5 separate regions of the Homo sapiens genome follow, and all the other regions are linked to region 4. The links come from fine-mapping of genetic effects on gene expression. A gene starts in region 4. Each other region holds a variant in brackets. All regions are shown on one strand. Distances are from middle to middle.

What was found.
Region 1: its variant is fine-mapped to the expression of PAPSS1 in whole blood (INTERVAL, PIP 0.97).
Region 2: its variant is fine-mapped to the expression of PAPSS1 in whole blood (INTERVAL, PIP 0.98).
Region 3: its variant is fine-mapped to the expression of PAPSS1 in whole blood (INTERVAL, PIP above 0.99).
Region 5: its variant is fine-mapped to the expression of PAPSS1 in B cells (CEDAR, PIP 0.95).

The regions. Positions count from the first base shown.
Region 1 is chr4:108,599,886-108,605,020 of GRCh38, reverse strand. The region is part of intron 1 of RPL34-DT (RPL34 divergent transcript); the gene reads left to right. Among named protein-coding and RNA genes, the nearest start is that of RPL34-DT, 18 kb to the left of the region's middle. The variant A/G (reference allele first, on the strand shown) is at 3,150.
Region 2 is chr4:107,740,743-107,745,877 of GRCh38, reverse strand. No RefSeq gene overlaps it. Among named protein-coding and RNA genes, the nearest start is that of PAPSS1, 23 kb to the right of the region's middle. The variant A/C (reference allele first, on the strand shown) is at 2,455.
Region 3 is chr4:107,692,293-107,697,292 of GRCh38, reverse strand. PAPSS1 (3'-phosphoadenosine 5'-phosphosulfate synthase 1) reads left to right here. Exons shown (of 12, transcript NM_005443.5): 3 at 3,287-3,522. Among named protein-coding and RNA genes, the nearest start is that of PAPSS1, 25 kb to the left of the region's middle. The variant CA/A (reference allele first, on the strand shown) is at 2,769.
Region 4 is chr4:107,718,357-107,723,473 of GRCh38, reverse strand. PAPSS1 (3'-phosphoadenosine 5'-phosphosulfate synthase 1) reads left to right here and starts at 3,240. Exons shown (of 12, transcript NM_005443.5): 1 at 3,240-3,354. The coding sequence starts at 3,295. RefSeq lists enhancers at 1,788-1,937, 3,928-3,987 and a silencer at 3,048-3,297.
Region 5 is chr4:108,573,303-108,578,437 of GRCh38, reverse strand. The region is part of intron 1 of RPL34-DT (RPL34 divergent transcript); the gene reads left to right. Among named protein-coding and RNA genes, the nearest start is that of RPL34-DT, 45 kb to the left of the region's middle. The variant C/A (reference allele first, on the strand shown) is at 2,883.

The sequences.
Region 1 (5,135 bases), 880 kb before region 4:
GAGTAGCTGGGTTTCCAGGTGCCTGCCACCACGCCTGGCTAATTTTTTTTTTTTTTAATAGAGGCGGGGTTTCACCATGTTAGCCAGGCTGGTCTTGAACTTGTGACCTAAGGTAATCCACCCGCCTTGGCCTCCCAAAGTGCTGGGAATGCAGATGTGAGCCACCATGCCCGGCTGACATTGTCTCTTATATCACATCATCCATTTTAAAGCTAAAGAAAAGTACTTGTAATTTTTTAAATTGTTAATCAATTGATCTTTGATACTGTATCGTTGGAAAGTTCTTGTAATCTATGGGCCATTTTTTAATGGCTTAGTTGAAGGTCTTTCACTTTTTGTAAAATATCTTCTTTAGTCTTTTTCTCATAATTTTCTAGCAAAATTTCCACAACTGAAATAATTTGTTTTACTATCTGACTTAAAATGACTTTCATTTTTCATCCCTCCCTTTCCCCTCCCTCCCTCCCTCCCTCCCTCCCTTCCTTCCTTCCTTCCTTCCTTCCTTTTCTGTTTCCTTCCTCCCCTCCCTCCTTTCTTTCTGTAAGAATCCAACACATCTTTTAGCTGTCTAAAATTACAAGCTCAGGGGCCAGGTGCGGTGGCTTATGCCTGTAATCCCAGCATTTTGGGAGGCTGAGGTGGGCAAATCAACTGAGGTCAGGAGTTTGAAACCAGCCTGACCAACATGGCAAAATCTCATCTCTACCAAAAAATACAAAAAAATTAACCAGGCCTGGTGGCGTGCACCTGTAGTCCCAGCTACTTGGGAGGCTGAGGAATGAGAATCGCTTGAACCTGGGAGGCAGAGGTTGCAGTGAGCCAAGATCGTGCCACTGCACTCCAGCCTGGGCAACACAGCAAGACTCTGTCTTAAAAACATAAATAAAATAAAATTATAATCTCAGATCCTGTTAAGAAGCATTAAGGATTTTTTGGTCGTATATTCAACTCCTATTTTGAACTACAATTTTGATTTCTTTTTTGACTTCCAAGGGGAAATGTCTTACCAAATTCATTATGTATTTACTTAAAATGTCTCTTAATATTGTCTAATTTATTGCTTAAAATATTTTTTACACACAAATAGCTTTTTTCATTTTGCTGTGTTACAGCAAATTGCAATTTCCATTCATCGTAGAATTTGTGACATGCTTTCTTTCAGTCCTTTTCTTTTTTTTTTTTTCTTTTTTGAGACGGAGTCTTGCTCTGTCCCCCAGGCTGGAGTGTAGTGGTGCGATCTTGGCTCACTGCAAGCTCTGCCTCCCGGGTTCACGCCATTCTCCTGCCTCAGCCTCCCGAGTAGCTGGGACTACAGGCGCCCGCCACCACACCTGGGTAATTTTTTGTATTTTTAGTAGAGACGGGGTTTCACTGTGTTAGCCAGGATGGTCTCGATCTCCTGACCTCATGATCCACCCGTCTCGGCCTCCCAAAGTGCTGGGATTACAGGCGTGAGCCACTGCGCCCGGCATTTTTTTTTTTTTTTTTGAGACGGAGTCTTGCTCTGTCCCCCAGGCTGGGGTGCAATGGCACGATCTTGGCTCACTGCAACCTCTGCCTCCTGGGTTCAAGCGATTCTCCTGCCTCAGCCTCCTGAGTAGCTGAGATTACAGGCACCCGCTACCATGCCCGGTTAATTTTTGTGTTTTTAGTAGAGATGGGGTTTCACCATATTGGTCAGGCAGCTCTCGAACTCCTGACCTCAGGTGATCTGCCCGCCTCGGCCTCCCAAAGTGCTAAGATTACAGGCGTGAGCCACTGCACCCGGCCAGTCCTTTTCTTTTAATAGCCCAGTTGTAGTACTAGTTTCTGTATCTCCACTTTATTCTGCATTAGTGGTATGCATTCATTTTATATTTAAATTTGGTTCATTTTTAAGCTACACAGGAAGGGGAACATCACACTCTGGGGACTGTTGTGAGGTGGGGGGAGGGGGGAGGGTTAGCACGAGATATACCTAATGCTAAATGACGAGTTAATGGGTGCAGCACACCAGCATGGCACATGTATACATATGTAACTAACCCGCACATTGTGCACATGTACCCTGAAACTTAAAGTATAATAATAGTAATAATAATAATAATAAAAACAAAGAAAAAAATTAAAAAAATAAAATAAAAATGATTTTATTATGGTTACAATACTGGGTATTTAAATTTAATTTCTTCTCAGACGAAGGAAACTAAGAGAATTACCAGTTGACCTACCTTTAAAGAATGACTAAGGATATTCTTCAAAGGAAATGATAGCAGCAGGCATAGAACTTTAGAAAGAAAGAAAGAACAACGGAATGAGAAAAAATAGGGTAACTATAATAGAATATTTTTTATCTCTTATGTTTTAAAAATTATGTTTAATGGTTTAAATTTGTTTCCTATTGCAGCTCTAACAAGTCACTGCAAACACAAGGGCTTAAACAATACAAATGTATTATCTGATAGTTCTAGAGAGCAGAAGCACAAAATGAGTCTCACTAGGCTAAAATCAAGGTGTCAGCAGGGCTGCATTCCTTCTGGAGACTAGGGGAGACTGCATTTCCTTGTCTCTCCCATTTTCTAGAGGACAGCTGCTTTTGTTGGCTCATGGCACCTTTTTTCCACGTTCAAAGACAGCAGTGTTGGTTGAGTCCGTCTCACACTCACACTGCTACCTCTCTGGTTTTCTTTTTTGTCTCTCTCTCCCACACTTATGTCTGTCTGTCTGTCTGTCTGTCTGTCCGTCTGTACATTTGTGTGAGATGGGGTCTTGCTATATTGCCCAGAGTGGCCTGGAACTCCTTGGCTCAAGCAATCCTCTCACCTCATCCTCCCCAGTAGCTGGGACTCTGGGCATAGAACTGACTGCTCTTCCACTTTTATGAATCCTTACGACTATATTGGGCTCCCCTTGATAGTATAGAATAATCTCTCTTTTTAAAGTCAGCTGATTAGCAGCCTTAATTCCATCTGCTCCCTTACTTCTCCTTTGCCACATAACCTATTAACTGTTTTGGGTTATTAGGATGTGGACATCTTTGAGAGTGGGCATTATTCTGCCCATCACAGGATTAAAAAATTATAATACCAATTGGATGTGATATTCAATGTATGTGGAGGAAATACTTAAGACATTATGTTTAAGAGGTGGGGAGGGATAAATTGCTAGGG[A/G]ATTATGCTGAATTAAAAAAAAGCCACCTATAGGTTGTATACTGTGTGATTTCATCTTTCTAACATTTTGAAATGACGAAATTTTAGAAATGGATATATATTGCCAGGATAAATGGTTGCCAGAGGGTGGGGGCAGGGGAAGGTAGGAGGATGTGGTTATGAGAGCAACACAGAGGATCTTTGTGTTTTGGAACAGTTGAATATCTTGATTGTAGTAGTGGGTACATGACCTACATAGGTGATAACATTGTATAAAACAATATATAAACACATAATAAAAATAAAGACAAAAACAGAAAACAATATATAAACACACACACACACACAAATGAATACCAGTAAAATTAGAACATCTGAATATAATCAGTAGATTGCATCAATTTCAATATCCTGCCTTTTTATGATTATTTGATAATTTCTGAAGGGATGAGAAGTAATGGATTTAATTTGTACATTATTCCAAGTTTCTCTGCAGAATGCAGGATATTTTAGGATATTAGTCATCTTGTTAGTCTAGAATCTTAAAAAGTGGTTGGCAGAGGTGGGAGGGAGGTGGATGTGGGTGTAAAAGGCATCAGGTGGGCTCCCTGTCGTGTTGGAACTGTTTAGCATCTTGACTGTGGCAGTAGATACACAAACCTGCACAGAAGATAAAAATATATGGAACTTGGCCGGGTGTGGTGGCTCATGCTTGTAATCCCAGGACTTTGAGAGGCCAAGGTGGGTGGATCACCTGAGGTCAGGAGATCGAGAACAGCCTGGCCAACATGGTGAAACCTGTCTCTACTAAAAATACAAAAATTAGCCGGGTGTGGTGGTGGGAGCCTGTAATCCCAGCTGCTTGAGAGGCTGAGGCAGGGGAATGGCTTGAACCCGGGAGGCAGAGGTTGTAGTGACCCGAGATTGTGCCACAGCACTCCAGCCTGGGCAACAGAGGGAGACTCTATCTCAAAAAAAAAAAAAATATATATATATATATATACACACACACACACACACACACACGTATATATACACATATACATATATATAATATATATATGGAACTTAATACATCACACACATGCAAATGATTCCAATGGGAAATCTGAATATGATCTGTGGATTGTATCAATGTCAGTATCCTAGTTATACTGTTATGATACAGTTTTTTAAAGTTTTACCATTGAGGAAAACTGGAATCAGCATATAAGGAATCTATCTCTGTTATTTCTTACAACTGCATGTGAATCTACAATTAGCAGAACAAACATTTCAATTTAAAAAAGTGAAAGAGTGAAAGGACCTAATGGAAGTAAGGTTTCTACACTCAAAGTGGTAAAATGTCAACGCTGTTAGACTGTGATAAATTATGCAAGTATATTGTAATACCTAGGGAAACCATTAAGAAAACTATTCAAAGAAATATACTCAAAAAACTATAAAGTCAAAATGTAATTCTAAAACATTTTCAAGTGACCCACAGAAAGGTGAGAAAGGGGAAACAGAGGAATGAAAAACAGAGGGAACAAACAGTAAACAATTAATAAAATAGCCAACTTAAGCCCAGCACACCAATCATTACTTTCAATATAACTAATCTAAATACGCCAATTAAAAGGCAGAGATTGGCAGGATGGATAAGTTTAATTATGAAGGATGGTTTAAGTAGGTATCACTATAACTCTTGTTGTTTGCACAAAATATTCAAATAAACACATTGCAGTGTTACATAGTTCACAGAAAAAAATCATTCAAACCAAATCAGTCCATTGGTACTGGCTACATTGGTGATGTTTTTATGTATAATACATAAGAAATAATACATAAGAATATGTTATGTATAATACATAAGAATATTATGTATAACACATAAGAAATAATGTATGTATAATATATATAATGTATAAGAAAAATGTGTACTATAATAAAACAATAACAATATCTTAACATAAGTTAAAGTAAAACGTACATTTACCAAAATGCTGCTTCAGTTTTAAATTTAAA
Region 2 (5,135 bases), 22 kb before region 4:
AGGCAACTTCAACTTCTAGGCAGATAAAGAAAGTAGCAGGGATGGGACATACACTTCACCTGAAACAACTAAAATAACCTCAACACAATACTCTGTGGAACAGTGGTTTTCAGACTTTGGATAACAGGCAGTGAAGAACAGTGATCCTTGAGAGATGAGAAAACAAATGAGGTAAGCCCTATAATTGCCCCAGCTTACTAACTGCAGAGAGTTTCCAGGCTATTGCGATGGGAGGAGGAGCCTAGACAAAAACCAGCAGTTACGCTGAGTTAAGGATATGAAGCTGGGGTCCAAGAGATAGGGCAAATTACCAGCGAAGAGGGAGCTACCACAGAGAGAGCTCCGGAGATTATAGAAAGGCCACCTGAACACAGACAAGTGAGAAAACTAATGTAGGCCAGAGAAAACACCACCTAAAAGGAGCAGAGGGAAAATGTCGGAGCTCACACCCAGCAGAAAGAGTTTGTGTTCCCACCAGCCAGAGCGGAAAACTTTGGCATTGGGCAAAGTACTCAAGACGGTGTTCTGAGTAATAGAGAAAAATTAACCCTAAACAAAAAGCTGCTAAAAACAAGATGTGAATGAATCAAACTATTTCCAAGTAACTTAACTGTGACCCAGAACACAGCTCAAGAATTTTTTTTAATAGAGTACAGAAATATGCAGTACTCAACAAGGTAAAATTCACAATGTCAGAGGCTTAATAACTAGGAGGAAAGAAGAGAACAAAAAGAAAAAGGTATGAATGAGAAAAATGAATCAATACAAAAAGAAGTAAACATATATAATTAATAGATAATGACATTAAAATAGTTATATTTCATAAATTCAAAAGGATGGGGGAAGATTGTTCATGTTAAATAGAGGTATGAAAGATATTTTCTAAAAGACCCAAGTTGAACTTCTAGAGATAAAAAATAAAATGTCTGAGATGGGATATATAATTTTAAAAACATAATAAGAGAATGAACTGAATAAAACAAAGACAAAATATCTAATCAGACCCTTAACCAAAGAAGATATGTAGATAGGAAATCAGCACATGAAAAGATGTTCAACATCATCAATTATTAGGGAAGTGCAAATTAAAACCACAGTGAGAAACTGTTGCATATGACTACAGTGAGTAAAAAGACCAACCATATCAAGTGTTGGTGAGGATGTGGAGCAATTACAGCTCTTATATGTCACTGTGAGGAATGTTAAATTGTACAACCACTTTGGAAAGCAGTTCTGGCAGTTTCTACAAAAATTAAACATACACCTATCATATGGCCCAGTGATTCCTCTCCTAGGTTTACCCAGGGAAAAGAAAGCCTATGTCCACACAAAGATTTGTATATGAATGTTCATGGCAATTCTATTTGCAATAGCCCCAAACTGAAATGACCCAAATGTCCATCAAAAGATGAAAGAATAAACAAATCATGGTATATCCATAAAAATGCTATTCAGCAATAAAATGGAGTGAACTACTGATACACATGAAAACGCTGGATGAATCTCATAATAATTATGCTAAAAGAAGCCAGGGAAAAGAATACATGCTGCATCTCATTACTTACTACTCAGTTACTTTAACATATAGAAATTATTAATATTAAGACAATGTTTTACATAGAGTAAGGGGTACAAAGACCATTTGTGGTTTTGATTAAATTACTATTCTCAGATATTACTGGCACCTAAATTAAGAACCTGTAATAATTTTAGAGCAGAAAGAACATCCTGAGATAAATTTATCCACCTCCAGCCCTTATCTTACAGATGAGAAAGCTGAGGTTCATGAAGTTACATGGTTTACTCAAGGCCACATAATTGGTAGAAACCTAGAATTCTAGGAAGTTATTTCCACTCACTGTGAAGAGCTCCTTTAAATTACAGGCAAGCCATAATTTAATAATATAATTTTTAATAACCTGGACTTATAAAATTCATTATTTGGGGGCTTTTTTTCTAAGGAAAAAAGTGACTATGTTAACCACAAGGAAATGCTTCAGATGAAATTAATAAGTGATATTTCAAGGTTTCTTTAAGCCCTATTCCTCTTACCATGCTTTTATTCGAGTAAATTTCCTTGGTGGAGAAGGTATACCTTCACAGTTTTGCTGAGTCATTGGTAAAATGAAACTGCTTGACTAGAGGGGTAATTTTCTCAGACTGACCTAGAAATCTTCTGGCAAGTCCCAGAGACTTGAATGGGTAGGCCCCATCTCCTATTCCATCACTTTGGGCATGGGGTAGGATTTCAACATGTGAATCCTAAGGTGACACAAACATTCAGACCTTAGAAGCATTAGTTATTGGTTTCTCACAATAGAAAGTGAAAATTTATTTCTCTTCTCCTACCAGCACCACCACACACATACTTATTCTCATATCCCTTCAACTTTTCCATCTAGTTATATTGCAATCTTGTTAAGGTTTATATTCATAGTTTACATTATCATGACT[A/C]TGTATGATTTAGAACTGAGCTATGTAGTAAAACCATCATTACTTTTGCTTGTAGCATAATATTTTTCCTCTGAATGTTTGTGTGTACATATACACATGTGTGTACATATGCATAGTTTTCCTTGTGGAATTCTTTGTTGTTTTTTCTCTTCTTAAAAAATAGTAACTTCTTGTGTTAAAAAAAGAGAAACATTACAGAAATATACACATGCTATTTTTTTTGTTTTAAGGAATACTTCATGGGCAGTATAGGAAACACTGCTGGTGCCTACCCATTTTCCCTTAATTCCTACTATCATGGCAAATATCATTCTGACTTCCACCTGTGAATAGTTCCATTTCTTTGCATGAGGGCTTCCTTTGGGACCAGTGTCTTCTTGACCTATGTGCATGCAATCCAAAAATATGAGGGAATGAATATTTCCTGAGAGTAGTCCTTGACTAACAACTGAAGAGTGTTGCATAAATACCCCAACTCCCTCTCCTCTTAGGTAATATACTCTGAGGCATATGTTCAATGCTGTTTCTTAGTGTTCCCTAGTGGGATTAAGCTTCAGTTTCCCATGATGTCTTTTTTTTGAGACGGTGTCTTGCTTGGCCCAGGCTGGAGTGCAGTGGCATGAACATGGCTCACTGCAACCTCCACCTCCCGGGTTTAAGCAATTCTCCTGCCTCAGCCTCCCGAGTAGCTGGGACTACAGGTGTGCACCACCACGCCCAGCCAATTTTTGCATATTTTGTAGAGAGGGGGTTTCTTCATGTTGGCTAAGTTGGTCTCCAACTTCTGGGCTCAAGCAACTTCTGGGCTCAAGCAATCCACCTCCCAAAGTGTTGGGATTACAGGCCTGAACCACCACGTCTGGCCCTAGGATGCCTCTTTGATGAAACACTATTGGTTTCCTTCCTGTCCCTGTAACACTTTCCTGCTCCACTAGATCCACTAGGATCACCTCCCAAACAAATTATTGTACTAGAATCCTTCTCCCTAGGCCTGCTTCTTAAACAACCCAAACTAAGACAATTAATGCTGAGCACAGCTAATTATGTCACATTATAAGGCACAAGATATTTAGCATCTCAGTTTTAGAGATGCTAAGATTGATCAGTGGATGCAGGTGGTGTCAGCCTGATCCCCTCATTATAAAATTCTCTTTCCTACCTTTCACCTAATACTTTTTAGCACTCACTGATGATCATTGCCTATATCTGTTAATATTACTTCATAAGGTATTTTAAATGGCGTTTTTTAAATCCAGTATTTTTCAAAAAATTAGCCAGGCATGGTGGCAGGCACCTGTAGTCCCAGCTACTCAGGAGGCTGAGGCAGGAGAATGGTATGAACCTGGGAGGCAGAGCTTGCAGTGAGCCAAGATCACGCCACTGCACTCCAGCCTGGGCAACGGAGCGAGACTCTGTCTCAAAAATAAATAAATAAATAAATAAATAAAATAAATAAATAAAAATAATAAATCCAGTATTTTTTCTGCATTAGCTAAAATTCTTCTGTCAGTACAAACTTTTCCTTTATCAACTGTTTGATTCCCCTGAAAAACAGTTTGTACAGAGAGGGTAGGACAAATGTGTCCTTTTTGATGACTTTAAGTAGTTATCACGAATTTAACCCTGAACTATTTCCTGTTGTCTGAATCATTTTTAATATAATTATTCCTAGTGGATACTCTATCAATTTCATTTTTTTCAAACAAGGTCTCTGAGGGCTTCTGACCTCTCTGAGAGCCATCTCACTGATCACCCTCTAGACCTGGGACACACAGTCATCCTGGGATTCCCTTCCATCAGTCTGGTGATTCCCTTCAGTTGTCTCCAGTGTAAAAATTCTTGTTTTCTGAATGCCATGTTTTCTCCTTTCATTTTCTGTGGAACATGTTCCTGGAACCAAGCCAGGTCTGGCTGCGTTTTCTCGTGGCCCAGTAACGGGAAGCAGACAAACTAGGGAAGAATGGAATTTATTGCTGTAACTGGATACAGGGAGAAGGCCGGAGATAATTCCACCAGACCAACTCAGAGTGTTACAATTTTCTTAGTGCTTATATAGGTTGGGGTTATGTGCCTACATGCAGTATAGCGTTTGCCTAAGCCTATTGGTAACTAATTTTGCTTCGACTAGAAGATCAGAGACAAAAATGCTTGCTAAGTCTGATTAAAAGGGCCCAGTACCTTCAAGGCCTGTCTACTGTGGTACAACAGTGATGACTTCTATCTTATCTCCCTTACAGCTTGGTCTGGAGATCTGCCTTAGGCGCTCCAATGAATTTATTCAAACAGCTGCCTCTCATGCCTTGACTCATCTCAGATTTCATCGACCCGAGATGGGTCCTGGCACTAGAAATGCAAGACTGTCTCTTTATTTTGGTTTGCTCTAGGTTACGGAGAAGCCCATGCAAGGCTCCTACTGACCATACGTTTCATTTCTAGCTTTGATGTCTGGGCACTGATTTCCCTAGGTTTAACTATTTGCTCAATGTTAAGGCAGCTCTGTGGAACTTAGTCTGTGTAACTGAAGTGCTACGCAGGCCTGTCTGTGTGATTGTCATACAGACTTTTCTGTGTGATTGTCAAGGAGAATTGGGCTGCCAGAATCCCCACTGTCAATTTGTGCATGATTTCTGTCATGCTTGTGCCAGAGGAGCTGCTGGGGTACTGGATGTTGTGATAATTCT
Region 3 (5,000 bases), 26 kb after region 4:
GATTTAAAAGGGCTCAGATAGGCAGCTATGCTTAGGGCTTGCTTGGTTGTTGTCATGCTGGCCTGGGCCACAGTCATCTGAAGTTTCAGCTGGGCAGGATGTCCAAGATGACTTACTCAGATGCTGCTGGTTGTCAGCTGGGAGCTTAGCGGGCTGAGAGTGGCTGGTACACCTGCTTGGGATCACGTTAGCATGGTGGTCTCAAGGGATTTAGTCACTGGCTTCTCCCAAATTAAGTGACCAAAGAAAAGCTGCATAGCATTTTGTGACCTAGCCTTGGTAGTCACACATCATCGTGTCACTATTTCACTACATTCTTTTGGCTGCAGGTAAGTCCTAAGGCCAGCCCACATTTTAGGGCAGGGAATTAGTACCTCTTGATGTGACAGTAGTAAAGTCACATTGTAGACACTTGTAGGATGGGATATTCAGTTGCAGCCATCTTTGGAAAATGCAGCTGGCTACAGTCATTAATATCGGTTTTTAATGTATAAAGCAACTGACACTGTATCGATGCTCTCAACATATCCTCCTCTTCTTTTTTTTTTAAATTTTTCTTTAAGGTCTGGGATACATGTGTAGAACGTGCAGTTTGTTACATGCTTGTGGCACGGTGGTTTGCTGCACCTGTTAACCCATCATCTGGGTTTTAAGCCCCACATGCATTAGCTATTTATCCTGATGCTTTCCCTCCCCTACCTACCCCCACTGGGAGGCCTCCACCTCCCCACCGATAGGCCCTAGTGTATGTTGTTCCCCTCCATGTCCATGTGTTCAGCTCCCGCTTATGAGAGAGAACATGCAGTGTTTGGTGTTCTGTTCCTGTGTTAGTTTGCCGAGGATGATGGCTTCCAGCTCCGTCCATGTCCCTGCAGACGACATGATCTCATTCCTTTTTATGGCTGCATAGTATTCCATGGTGTATATGTACCACATTTTCTTTATCCAGGCTATCATTGATGGGCATTTGGGTTGGTTTCATGTTTTTGCTATTGTAAATAGTGCTGCAATAAACATACATGTGCGTGTATCTTTATAGTAGAATGATTTATATTCCTTTGGGTATATACCCAATAATGGGATTGCTGGGTCAAATGGTATTTTCTGGTACTAGGTCCTTGAGGAAGCACCACACTGTCTTCCACAATGGTTGAACTAATTTACATTTCCTACCAACAGTTTAAAAGCGTTCCTATTTCTCCATAGCCTCTCCAGCATCTGTTGTTTCTTGACTTTTTAGTAATAGCCATTCTGACTGGCATGAGATGATATCTCATTGTGGTTTTGATTTGCATTTCTCTAATGATCAGTGATGTTGAGCTTTTTTTCATGTTTGTTGGCCACCTAAGTGTCTTCTTTTGAGAAGTGTCTGTTCATATCCTTTGCCCACTTTTTGATGGGGTTGTTTATTTCTTCTGTATTAAGTTCCTTGTAGATTCTGGATATTAGACCTTTGTCAGATGGGTAGATTGCAAAAATTTTCTCCACATATGCAAATCAGTAAATGTAATCCATCACATAAACAGAACCAATAACAAAAACCACATGATTATCTCAATAGACACAGGAAGGGCCTTTGATAAAATTCAACATCTATGTTAAAAACTCTCAATAAACTAGGTATTGATGGAACATATCTCAAAATAATAAGAGCTATTCATGACAAACCCATAGCCAATATCATACTGAATGGACAAAAGCCGGAAGCATTCCCTTTGAAAACCGGCACAAGACAAGGATGCTGTCTCTCACCACTCCTAGTCAACATAATATTGGAAGTTCTGGCCAGGGCGATCAGGCAAGAAAAAGAAATAAAGGGTGTTCAAATAGAAAGAAAGGAAGTCAAATTGTCCCTGTTTGCAGATAACATGATTCTATGTTTAGAAAGCCCCATAGTCTCAGCCCCAAAACTCCTTAAGCTGATAAATAATTTCAGCAAAGTCTCAGGATACAAAATCAATGTGCAAAAATCAAGCATTCTTCTACACCAACAATAGACAAGCAGAGAGCCAAATCATGAATAAACTCCCATTCACAATTGCTACAAAGAGAGTAAAATACCTGGGAATACAACTTGCAAGGGACGTGAAGGACCTCTTCAAGGAGAACTACAAACCACTGCTGAAGGAAATAATAGAGGACACAAACAAATGGAAAAACATTCCAGCCTCATGGATAGGAAGAATCAGTATCGTGAAAATGGCCATACTGCCCAAAGTAATCTATGTATTCAATGCTATTCCCATCAGACTACCATTTGATATTCTTACAGAATTAGAAAAAAACTACTTTAAATTTCATATGGAACCAAAAAAAAGCCCTCTCTTCTATTTTTTTTTTTATTCCAGTTAGCCTTCTGTACTACCATGAATTCTTTCAAGAGCATTGGTACATTAGACTTTAGTATTTTATCTCTTGTTTTAGAACTATCTTGGTTATGACACTCGCCAAGTTGGCAAGTAATAGTGCATAAATGTACTCTTTCCTTCTCTTTGTTTACTGAGTAAATACTGTTGGTATAGGAAGGTGAGTTGAAATGAGGGTGTTCTATTAAAATTAATTATATTATAAATTGGACTCCCAGATAATTGTATCAAGGTGGTTTGTGAGTGCTGATGATCTAGGAAAATGGAGGTACCTTTGTAACATTTCTTTCTTTTGTCCTTTCTTTTTCTTCCCTCACCAGAAATAATTTGGGCATATGACTTTGTTTTAAAATTTGGCATGCAGCTTTAGAAAAGTGGTAACGAGAGGACAAAGTGAATTCC[CA/A]ACCATGTCTGCTAATAAAATTAGTTAAGCCTTTCTGAAGTTTATCAGTGATTTCTGATACGTTTGCTCATAGATATTTCATTAAAACAAACACTTATTATGTTTAAACTGTAGGTGTTTTCCTAGGCAAGAGGTAAATCTTAAAGAGAAATATTAGATAAGAACATTACTGAGAGATTGCTTTGCATAATGAATGTATTTAATCCTGTGATTGCAATTTTTTATATCTCTTGAGCCAGGAGTTTGAGACCAGCTGGCGCAACATATTGAGAATTCTGTCTCTACAAATAATAAAATAAGTTGGATGTGGTGGCATGTGCCTGTTGTCCTAGCTATTTGGAAGGCTGAGGCATGATCTCTTGAGTCCAGGAGTTTGAGGCTGCAGTGAGCTATGCAGCCTCTGCACTCCAGCCTGGGTGGCAGAGCAAGACTCTTGTTTCTGGGAAAAAAAAAGTATTACTACATAGTTATCCTTCTAACTTTACACATGGAATCTGTTTGGACTGTTTAATTTTAGGCTTGTCTGGAGCGGGAAAGACTACTGTGAGCATGGCCTTGGAGGAGTACCTGGTTTGTCATGGTATTCCATGCTACACTCTGGATGGTGACAATATTCGTCAAGGTCTCAATAAAAATCTTGGCTTTAGTCCTGAAGACAGAGAAGAGAATGTTCGACGCATCGCAGAAGTTGCTAAACTGTTTGCAGATGCTGGCTTAGTGTGCATCACAAGTTTCATATCACCTTACACTCAGGTATGTGGTTTTTGTGCCATTGCCTTTCTGCTTACATTTATTGAGAATATGGTATCAGGCAAAGCACATACTTTAAACATTGATATGTGCTTTGAGGCTAACTCTACTCCTCCCCAGCTACCATCTCTTTGTTCCTGTAACATAGGATTAAAATAACCTAAAACATTTCTATGCTGTGACTTTCTAAGTAAATCTGGTTTTGATAAAACCTGCTTTTAAAAAAGCCGTGAAGTATAACACAGTCATTGAATTTAAGCCAATGGCCAAATTATTTCAGGCTCAACTTTTCAACTTAATAAAACTATAGTGAATACTTGACAGATGTCAAACTCCGGAGAAAATCTAACTTTCTTAACATGTGCCCTACCATGGCTTCTTTGCTCAGAATTCGTTGTTCTTAGCTTGCATCATAGTTCCTCTTATTTTAGAGACTGCAGCAACAACAAACCATGTTTGTGTATTTCTCTGAAAAAATTATGTCATTTCTTATCTCAGGATTTTTGTTTCCTCCCTGCCTGGAAAGCACTCTTCTCCCTCCTGTTCCTGTTTTCACAGTGTCAGCTGACTTCCAGTTATAGATGGAGACTTAGGTTAGGTACCTTAACACATTATTTTATTTTCTTCAACTTTTATTTTAAGATCAGGGCTACATGTGCAGGTTTGTTAAATTGGTAAACGTGTGCCATGGTGATTTGCTACACAGATCATCCCATCACCTAGGTATTAAGCCCAGCATCCATTAGCTATTCTTCCTGATGTTCTCCCTCCCCAACCACAACAGTCATCAGTGTGTGTTGTTTCCCCCCATGTGTCCGTGTGTTCTCATTATTCAGCTCCCACTTATAAGTGAGAACATATAGTGTTTGATTTTCTGTTTCTGTGTTAGTTTGCTGAGGTTAGTGGCTTCCAACTCCATCCATGTCCCTGCAAAGGACATGATATCATTCCTTTTTTAGCTACATAGTATTCCATGATATATATATATATATATACACACCGTGTTTTCTTTATCCAGTCTATCGTTGATGGGCATTTAGGTTGATTCTATGTCTTTGCTACTGTGAATAGTGTTGCAGTGAACATACTCATGCATGTATCTTTGTAATAGAGTGACTTATACTCATTTGGGTATATACTCAGTACTGGGATTGCTGGGTCAAATGGTATTTCTGCCTCAAGATCTTTGAGGATTCACTGCACTGTCTTCCACAATGGTTGAACTAACTTACATTCTCACCTACAATGTAAAAGCATTTCTTTTTCTCCACGAGCTCACCAGCATCTATTGTTTCCTGATTTTCTAATAACAGCCATTCTGACGAGTGTGAGATGGTATCTCATTGTGGTTTTCGTTTGCATTTATCTAATGATCAGTGATGTTGAGCTTTTTTTCATGTTTGTTGGCTGCATGTATGTCTTCTTAAGAGAAGTGTCTGTTCATACCCTTTGCCCACTTTTTAATGTTTTTTTCTTGTAAA
Region 4 (5,117 bases):
GCATACACTTGTACTAAGAAAATATCTTCATTTTATTTCCTTTTCCTTTATCATGTGATATGAGATTCACTGACTTCATATCAGCATTTAAGTATTGTTAACTTTATGTAATAGTATGTGAGTTGGGGACTGCATTTCCAGTTGTACAAAGGACAGTTCAGTTATGTTAGACATAATTATGACCTTATTATTGTCTTATTTGAAGATTATGAATGATCTCAGGAGATGTGTATGGGTTCAAGTTGTCAAGGGGTGGACTTGTGATGGTTAATACTGAGGGTCAACTTGATTGGATTGAAAGATGCAATATTGATCATTGTCAGGTTGTTACCCAAGGAGATTAACATTTGAGTCAGTGGGCTGGGGAAGGCAGATCCACCCTTAATTGAGTTGGCACCACCTAAACCGCTAACAGGGAATATAAAGCAGGCAGAAAAACGTGAAGAGGCAAGATAGGCCTAGCCTCCCAGCCTACATCTTTCTCTTGTGCTGGATGCTTCCTGCCCTTGAACATCGGACTCCAAGTTGTTCAGTTTTGGGACTTAGACTGGCTCTCCTTGCTCCTCAGCTTGCAGGCAGCCTATTGTAGGACCTTGTGATTGTGTAAGTTAATACTTAATAAACTCCCATTCATATGTATATATCCTATTAGTTCTGTCCCTCTAAGGGAACCCTGACTAATACAGAGGATCATTGTCTTTATCCATTATTTCAGTAGAAAATGAAAAGTGGTGATATTAAAATGATATCATTTCTTCTTTATTTATTAGTGGTACTTCTGTAAAGAGAAACTTCTCTTTATCAATTTTTTGGGTCCCAGACAGTCCAGGGAAAGCAGAGTAAATGCTTAATTCATCCCCTTTATTTACCAGTTTTCAAAATAATGAGTTGGTTTCCTAGCATTCTCTAAGAGTGACAATAATTTTTTTTAAAATCATCATCATTACAAACACCTAGATTTAAACATATTTGATATGTTTTAATATTTTGTAGTTCTAGTCCATTTAGTGCTTTAATTCTCCCATCTTTGACATGGAAAAATTTCTTTAAATTGGTTTCTGAGTCCTTTTGACATAATCCGAGTAGCTTTTGACAGTTTTTTGTTATGTTTCCTGTTTGATGTTTCTGGCTCATTTGCATGACCCATATCTGGAATCATGAATTTGGATGGACAGTATCAATGTAAACTTATGATATATTTTACCTTAAAAAAAGTCTTTTACTAGAAATAAGGTCAAACTCACAGCAGTGAGCACTCCTAGAGCCAGATCGTTATATCTAAATACCATTTCCCTCTAATAAGAACCAGAACTCAGAGCAATGGCTAACTTCAGATGTGGCCCTATTTTCTCATATGAAGCTTGAGATCTTCTTCCAAGCTCATTCCTGTTATTGGCAGAATTTGAAATTATATTGAAATTCAGTTCTATGTATGAACCCCAGATTGAAAATTCCCTAGAAAAAAAGCTGAAGGGAACCATTCACATTTTAAGTAGTCAAGTAACAAGATCAGATTTCTGTTTCAGAAATACCGCTCTGACAGCAGGTGCAAGAATGGGGTGTGTGGCGGGGATGTGGAGAGCGGCTGCACAGCTGGGAGGATGTCCAGTGAACGGGCTTAATGATAACTCAGGCTGGATATAGGGGAGGCCTAATTTAAGACAGTAGCAGTGGGGCAAATAGATGGAGGGCTGATTTGCTAGTCACTAACAGGCAGCAGCCTCAGGTCTTGGTGATGGGGGCTGATTTGCTAGTCACTAACAGGCAGCAGCAGCAGCCTCAGGTCTTGGTGATGGGGGCTAATTTGCTAGTCACTAACAGGCAGCAGTCTCAGGTCTTGGTGATGGGCGGGGTCAGGGGCGGAGGGCGGCTGTGTCACAGGGGGGCAGAGCTGCAAGCAACTCTTTTGGTGCCAGGGGCAAGCTGCGGAAAAGAGAACTCAGAGTTATGGGGGGTGTGGGGAAGATAACTCCTGGAGGAAACTCTGTCATGCCCCCAGCCCATCCTCCTACGAACTAGCCCTGGAATAATTAGGTGAATTTGAAAATGTCCTCCGTAGGCGGGAGTTCTATTCGGGGTTACCTGCGGCCTCCCCGGTCCTGGATTTCAGTCCTCTAGGTATTTCCTGAGTAGCTCTTAATAATACAGAAGCCCCTTTCCGGTGTAGGTCGGTAAGAAGCACTGCACAGAAATCTGATGCGAAGTGGGGTCTCCTAGCGGAGAGGGAGGCACCTTATAAGTAATCACTAATCCAGGTTGAGATATTAATTATTGATGTCAAGAAATCGGGCTTTTATTATATCTTTTTAAAAACTGTGTCTTGAGGCCAGGCGCTGTCGCTCACGCCTGGAATCCCAGCACTTTGGGAAGCTGAGGCGGGCGGATCATGAGGTCAGGAATTCGAGACCAGCCTGGCCAACATAGTGAAACCCCGTCTCTACTAAAAATACAAAAATTAGCCGGGCGTGGTGGCACACGCCTGTAGTCCCAGCTACTCGGGAGGCTGAGGCAGGAGAATCGCTTGAACCCGGGAGGCAGAGGTTGCGGTGAGCCGAGATCCTACTACTGCACTCCAGCCTGGGCGACAGAGCAAGACTCCGTCTCAAAAAAAGAAAAAAAATTGTGTCTTGAGTAGAATTTTAATGTGGAGAATGAGCTGTTCGGTAAATCAATTCTTCCCTTTGCAAAGCTGTAAAACATTTAAAACATTTGGCCAGGGTGACATGGGCACAGAAGGGGCAGACAGGAGGTCGGCAGCCAGGTCTGTGGAGGAGTAGCCACAGGTGCAAGAGGCCGCGTCAGCGTCCTCCCAATCAGCCTCTGCTGAGGGAGTGCCGCGCGCGGCGAGCCGCGCACTCCCCTTGCCTTTCTCCCGGCGGCTGGTACTCGCTCTTAGAGATCTGCGTTAGCTCAGAGCTAGGCTCGGTGCCGCAGAGGCACCTGAGGTTCCACGACTGCATTCCAGGCCCCGCCCCTTCATCGGGATCTGGAAGGAGGAGCGCCGTGCGCGCCCGCGCCGGCGCGAGCGCTGAAGCTCCGCCCCCAGCTTCTACCTCCGGTTCTATCCCGGCGTTTCGCCCTTCCCCACAGACCTCTGCCCCGGACCCATTTCCGAGGCGCGCCGCATGCGCCGCGCAACCCAGGCCACGAGCACGGGCGCGTGCTTAAGTCAGCGCGCGCCCGCTCCGACGCGAGGAGGCCCCGCCCTCCAGCCCCGCCCCGCTCGCTGGCCTGCCCTCCTCTTGCTACCCTCCCGGCGCAGAGAACCCCGGCTGCTCAGCGCGCTCCGCGGTCATGGAGATCCCCGGGAGCCTGTGCAAGAAAGTCAAACTGAGCAATAACGCGCAGAACTGGGTAAGCTGGGGACGAAGGCGAGACGGCGAGGAGCGGAGGGGCTGTGGGAGCAGCTCGTTCCGGAGCCGCCGCCTCTCTCCCGCCTCCTCCGCATCCATCCTTCCAGGAGCGCGGAGGTGGGTTCCGGGGCTGCGGCGCCTCCCGGCTGGGGCCGTGGGTGGTTGCGAGGCAGAGGGGCGCGGCGCAGGGTGGGGATCTCGCCCTAGCTTGGCGCAGCGTGCGGTCCGAGCCACCGTTCGTGGGAAGAACGCCCCCCCTCCCCAGCGCCTCCGCTCAGGTAAGACCCCCAGGAAAATCCTTCACCCGTGAACTGGCGCTTGCTGAAACCTCCGGGTGCTGAAACCTGCGGCTGCAGAAACAGGAGCTTCCTGCATACCTTGGAGTGGCCTGAAGATGTGCAGAGAAGGCGGAGGCGGGCGCCTTCGACGCGTTCTTGGTTTTTCTTGGCTCTGCCAGTGCGGTTGGCCCAGGTTTGGGTCCATCTCCGTGTCTTTCCATTTCTGAGTTTCAGTGTGAAAGGAGAGTACCCAACAATGTGGTCATTCATGAGTTGAGACTGCCCTGAACTGAGGTTCTTTGTGTCTCTGTGTTAAATCGGAATGTTTAACAAGTAGGAGTTTGGAAGACTCCATTCCTGGTGACAGTCAGGTATGGGACCAGTCCTTTATAACGTTTAGTAATGACTGCCAGTTGACTTTGTAAAGTGCTGTGTCCTCATAACGTTGCTTACTTCCTTAATTTCTCTGTGATGAGAAAGAGCCTTATCTTCCTTTGTAAGTGTGCAGCAGGGAAGGGCCCATCTTTGGAGTCTGGAAAGGCACTGGTTTAAGTTTAGACGGAAACGTTATTTCACAGTCCAATGGAATAATAAGGTTTAAATGCAATGTCTCCCAAAACGTTACTTGCCCTAGATGAATCAAAGAAAAAAAAAACAAGCAATTTCAGGCAAATGTTCTTTGGAAGTCATTAATTTACCACATCTGTTGTTATTGTTATCATGAGTTGTTTACTGATTCCTCTCTCCTTTTATTTAACTCTATAGATGGTAAGGAGGGGAAGGAGATTTAAAAGATGAATTAGAACAGTGGAAAGAGCGCTGGACTCCTGGCCTGGTCTCTCATCCCAGCTTTGCCATTTACTAGCTGTGTGATCTTGAGGAGAGTCACTTTACTTTTTCGAACCTCAGTTGACTTAAGGGTATAATAGTATGTACTTCACGGGATTGTTTTGATGAACAAAGAAGACAGATCATGAATTTGAATGTGCGGTGAAACCACTGCCTTGAAACTCAGACTCAGTTTCGCTTCTCTTACCTTAAGGTGTTTCACGGTTAGGGAAATAAGGTTGGCTTACTTGGGGTATTTACAGATGATTTCTGTTACATTGTCCATTTATGTACTCATTTATTTATTAACATTTGCCACATGGTGCGTATTCTATGTAGAGACTTGTGCTAGACATGGTGGTGAAAAATGTGGGACTTACTGCTTGCCTTCTGGTAGTTCATGGTTTGTGTTGGGGTTGTGACATTTGCCAAGTGGTGAATATGTCTTTGTGGTCCAGAGTGAGTGGCGTAAGACAGAAGTTTTATTGCAATTTAGAGGAGAGATTAGTTTCGCCTGGGCGTTTTGGGAGGGTTTATGGAGGATTTCAGATTTCTGAGTCAGAGGGGAACTGCATGGATAAGTGTTGGGAATAAAAATTACTATTTTTTTTACTCCAGAAACATTGACGAAACTTGTTTGACTGCCCTGGAGAGTTTT
Region 5 (5,135 bases), 850 kb before region 4:
ATAATATTCATCATAAGATTATTCTGTGAAAAACAAAGACTTAACAGAATGAGATTTTTTTTCTTTTTTTTTTTTTTGAGACGGAGTCTCTCTCTGTCACCCAGACTGGAGTCACTGGAGTGCAGTGGCATGATATCAGCTCACTTCAACCTCCGCCTCCCAGATTCAAGCGATTCTCCTGCCTCAGTGTCCCAAGTAGCTGGGATTATAGGCACGCACCACCACACCCAGCTAATTTTTGTATTTTTAGTAGAGGTGGGGTTTCTCCATGTTGGCCAGGCTGATCTCGAACTCCTGACCTCAGGTGATCCGCCTGCCTCGGCATCCCAAACTGCTAGGATTACAGGCTTAAGCCACCGCTGCTGGCCCAGAATGAGAATTTTATGAATGAATGTGCTTTCAAATCTTATAATATGAGAAAAATGGAGCTTTAAAAAATAAACCTCATTGGTAGAATTCAGATGACTTTTGGAACACAAACTGAAAGCTACTTATTAAATAAGGGTAATTTGTTCTGGGTCCACACCATAAAATGGCTTCAAACATTTTTAAAATAGGTCATTTGAATACTCTAAAATGTCTGGTGTATGGTAACATTCTTAAGCAAGTTCATATGAGAGTTAGAGAGTATCCCAAAAGCATCCTTGGGATTTCTGACCATATCAAAGCAAATGGAACTACATTATCAAGGAGCTCTAATGAGACAGTTTGTTTAATTGAAATGCTTTAAATTACCATGTAGTACAGCATGAAAAAATCATTATTTTCATTAGCTGAACTATTTCTGTTAGCCCCAAACTAAAGGTTCTAATATTGAAGCATGATAAATGCACTGTAAAGCCAGTAGATCACAAGGAGAAATTTAAATGAAAGAATTCATCTAAAATACCAACATTTTGCCTTAAACATTACACGTAGGTGTCAATATCCTATCACTGACTCTCCCAAGCCAGAGGAAGTATTAACTAGAAATAAGCCCCATCTATACAAATAAAAAACTAATAATTGTGGCATCACCATTTAGTTACTTTGTCTTAATAGGCAACACAGCTCTTCTATCAACACATGGGTATAGTGGGTTGCTTTAGACACAGTCCACTTAAGAGTTTTCCTTTGACTTTTTTTTTTTTTTTTTGAGATGGAGTCTTGCTCTTATCATCCAGGCTGGAGTTCAATGCGCGAGCTTGGCTCACTGCAACCTCTGCCTCCTGGTTCAAGTGATTCTCCTGCCCCAGCCCCCTGAGTAGCTGGGATTACAGGTGCCTGCCACCATGCCTGGCTAATTTTTTGCATTTTTAGTAGAGGTGGGGTTTCACCATGTTGGTCAGGCTGGTCTCAAACTCCTGACCTCAGGTGATCCACCCGCTTTGGACTCCCAAAGTGCTGGGATTACAGGCGTCAGCCACCGCACCTGGCCCCTTTGACGATTTTATTATGGACGATAAATTTGTTTTATTTTGTTTTGTTTTTTTCTTGAGATGAAGTCTAGCTTTGTTGCCCAGGCTGGAGTGCAGTGGTGTAATCTTGGCTCACTGCAACCTCCTCTTCCCAGGCTCAAGCGATTCTCCTGCCTCAGCCTCCCAAGTAGCTGGAATTACAGGCGTGCACCACCACACCTGGCTAATTTTTGTATTTTTATTAGAGACAGGGTTTAGCCATGTTGGCCAGGCTGGTCTTGAACTCCTGACCCCAAGTGATCCACCCTCCTTGGCCTCCCAAAGTGTTGGGATTACAGGTGTGAGCCACCGTACCTGGCCATAAATTTGTTTTGACTTAAGAAGAACCCACCTATAGTAAAGAGGAGAATATTCATATAGCATTTGCCTTGATCACCTTTCTATGGAGAAAAACTGGCTAACAGTGAAATTCCAGAATTAAATCTCCCATTCAGTTAAAATATGATCTATCTCAACAGGAACCACAGAGAGTGCCCCTCACTCATCTGATATCTGATATTCTGTAGCATAAGTTAGATCAAGAAGGCTTCCTGGGAATGGGTAGGATGTGAAAGAAGATGCAGAACAGAGAGGGCCTGAATCTCCTTGGTAGGCAAACCTGATGTCACTTAAGGGTACAGTTTCCATTAATAGTAGATTAGCTCAATCTTAAGAAGAAAAAGAATAAGGTTCAACTTGGATGACTGTGAAGTGATTTAAGATAGTTTTTTTTTTTTTTTCTTTTTGAGACAGAGTCTCACTCCATCGCCCAGGCTGGAGTGCAGTGGCATGATCTTGGCTCACTGCAACCTCCACCTCCCCGGTTCAAGCCATTCTTCTGCCTCAGCCTCTGGAGTAGCTGGGACTACAGATGCACACTACCATGACCGGCTAATTTTTGTATTTTTAGTAGAGATGAGTTTTCACCATGTTGCCCAGGCTGGTCTCGAACTCCTGTTCTCAAGTGATCCGTCTGCCTTGGCCTCCTAAAGTGCTGGGATCACAGGCATGAGCCACCGCACCCAGCCTAAGATGGGTATTTAAAATGTTGACTATTAGCAATAGAAAATACTCTTTGCTTTTTGAATGATAAGGAGGTTTGAATTATTTGCTTTTGTTTTGTGCAAAGAAATAATTATAATGAGAAAATTTCCTTTTTCATGGGTTAGGTATATGGAGGCATATGGAGGCAGTAAATCTTGAAGATTTTTTCTTTTATTTTTCTGTAATTTTTGTGTCATGTAAATTTTGCTGATCTCTTGTGATTCATAATTAAATGGGTTAGATGCCATTCCACTAATAATCATTACCAATAAAGAAGTTCAAGAGTTTCTCCAGTTTCATACAAGGAGTAGCTATGGACAAGGAGAATTGGATCCAGGAACTTTGTTTCATTAGTTTTCTTACACCTCTGACATATTTTGTACTCTCTCTCTCTCTCTCTCT[C/A]TCTATATATATATATGTATAAAACATATATATAAATATATAACATATATGTGTATATATGTTATATACATATATATATATATAAAGTGTTCTCTTTTAGGAATCCTGGAAGATTCCTAAAATCCTAAAATCTCTTTTAGGCATCCTGGAAGATTTCATATATATATATATAAAGGGTTCTCTTTTAGGAATCCTGGAAGAACTCCTCCCAGATAAAAAGCATTACTGTATTAATAGATGATGTAAACTTTTTTTCTGAGGTGTCATAAAGTAGAAAGTTGAATATTCCAGCTTTTTTTTTTTTTTTTTAAAAAGGGAAACTTGAATGCTTTGATCATTAGTCCCTTGAGTCTCATTCTTGTTTGGAGTTTTATTTTCCCATTCCTGATCCAGTCTGATGTTCTTTGTCTGCAATTCAATCTCTATTGCTTTAATCATTTTGGATTGTACCAATGCCTTCTCAGTAATAAAAGAAATGGGGAGCCAGGCTTGGCATGGGACAAGTCTCTTCAGCTGCAGTAAGACATTACGTATGAGTTGTCTACCCACAAAAGGGCCCACTGTCAGGTTAAATTAATGAGCTGCATGTTTTAATCATTAAGGTAATAGCAATATGTGGATTATTTGCCTAAGTTTTAATCATTTCTGTTTTCACCAACTAGGTCATCAAACGCTTTCTTTTAAGAAATCTTTCTATTTCATAGCAGAGAATAGCTTCTATGTGGGACAGAAATAAATGCTTCAGAGTCCTAAAACACTAAACAGCTCCAGGGTTTGGTAAAATTTAGTTATGCCTTTGTCCGTCAACACAGGAATTTGGAGGGACTGGCCGTGGTCACCATTAGCAAATGGAACCAGCATGAGTTCCAATTTGCAAAGAGTTGAAGTAGAATAGGGGAATTTTAGGTCTCAGCAGCTGAGGTGGAAATGAATTATTTTGTGGACCATGGGCAGCACTGAGACCGGGTGAGTTGAAAGAGATACTGCTGACTATGCCTGCAGGGGATCTGATGGCTTTGCTTCCACTGGAAATTGCTTTGTACAGACTTTCAACTCACAGTCTGGTATCTGCATGGCAAATGTTGGCAAGAGGACTTGCTGTTCTCAGGAAAGTCCACAGTAAGTAGATCAAGACACAACTTCTACAGCTGATTTTTCTAATAAAGCCATGCTTCCGAAAAGGAGGGATGAGTTTTAGCACCATTTTCATTTCTTCTTAGATATTTAGGCTATACCCAAGTGAAACCTAGAGCATAGGGTCAAAAAGAGAAAAATCCAACTTATTACTTATATCGTTGGGGTAATGCCAAGCACACGACTCAATTGATTTTTGATCGAATTTGCTAAATTAAAACAATCATTTTATGAACTCTGTGATAGTACTGTCCAATGTGTTACCACAGCATTTGTTCGTAACTCAAACATAGCTCTTCCTATACGTGTTATAGTGAATTACACCATTTAGCTATGTGCTTCCAGAGGTCAGGGACAGTAACATATTCATCTGTGTGTCCTCACGTCTTTATACAGAGTTGATGATCATAGAACATAATTGACAGTGTAGGAATCAATGGAGAGTTTCTGCTTTCCTTTCTGGAAACTGTGGTGTGGTGGGAAACCAAAGGATATAGGGGGTGGGTTTAGAAATATAGAATTACAGATGAGAAGGGCTCTCAGAGATCACATAATTCAACACTTTCATTTTACGGATGAAGAAAGTGAGGTCCAGAGAGTTTAATGACTTTTCAAGGTCAATTAGTTGGTGGCAGAGCCAGAATGGAGGTGACACTGGAACTAGCATTTACCAGAAGCTGCTATAGACTGGGCATTGTGCTTAACCTGTGCTGTCTGATTCATCCATTCTTCTGTCCTTTTTTTTTTTTTCTTGAGACGGTGTCTTGCTCTGTCACCCAGGCTGGAGTGCAGTGGCGCCATCTCGGCTCACTGCAACCTCCACCTTCTGAGTTCAAGCGATTCTCCTGTCTCAGCCTCCCAAGTAGCTGGGATTACAGGTGCCCACCACCACACCTGGCTAATTTTTGTATTTTTAGTAGACATGGGCTTTCACCTTTTGGCCCAGGCTGGTCTCAAACTCCTTGACTTCAAGTGATCCGCCTGCCTCGGCCTCCCAAAGTACTGGGATTACAAGAGTGAGCCACCGCGCCCAGCCTCTTCTATTCTTTTTTACTGATTTATCCATTTTCCATGTGTTTGGAAAAGGACTAACATTATTTATTTTGAAACTAAATCATT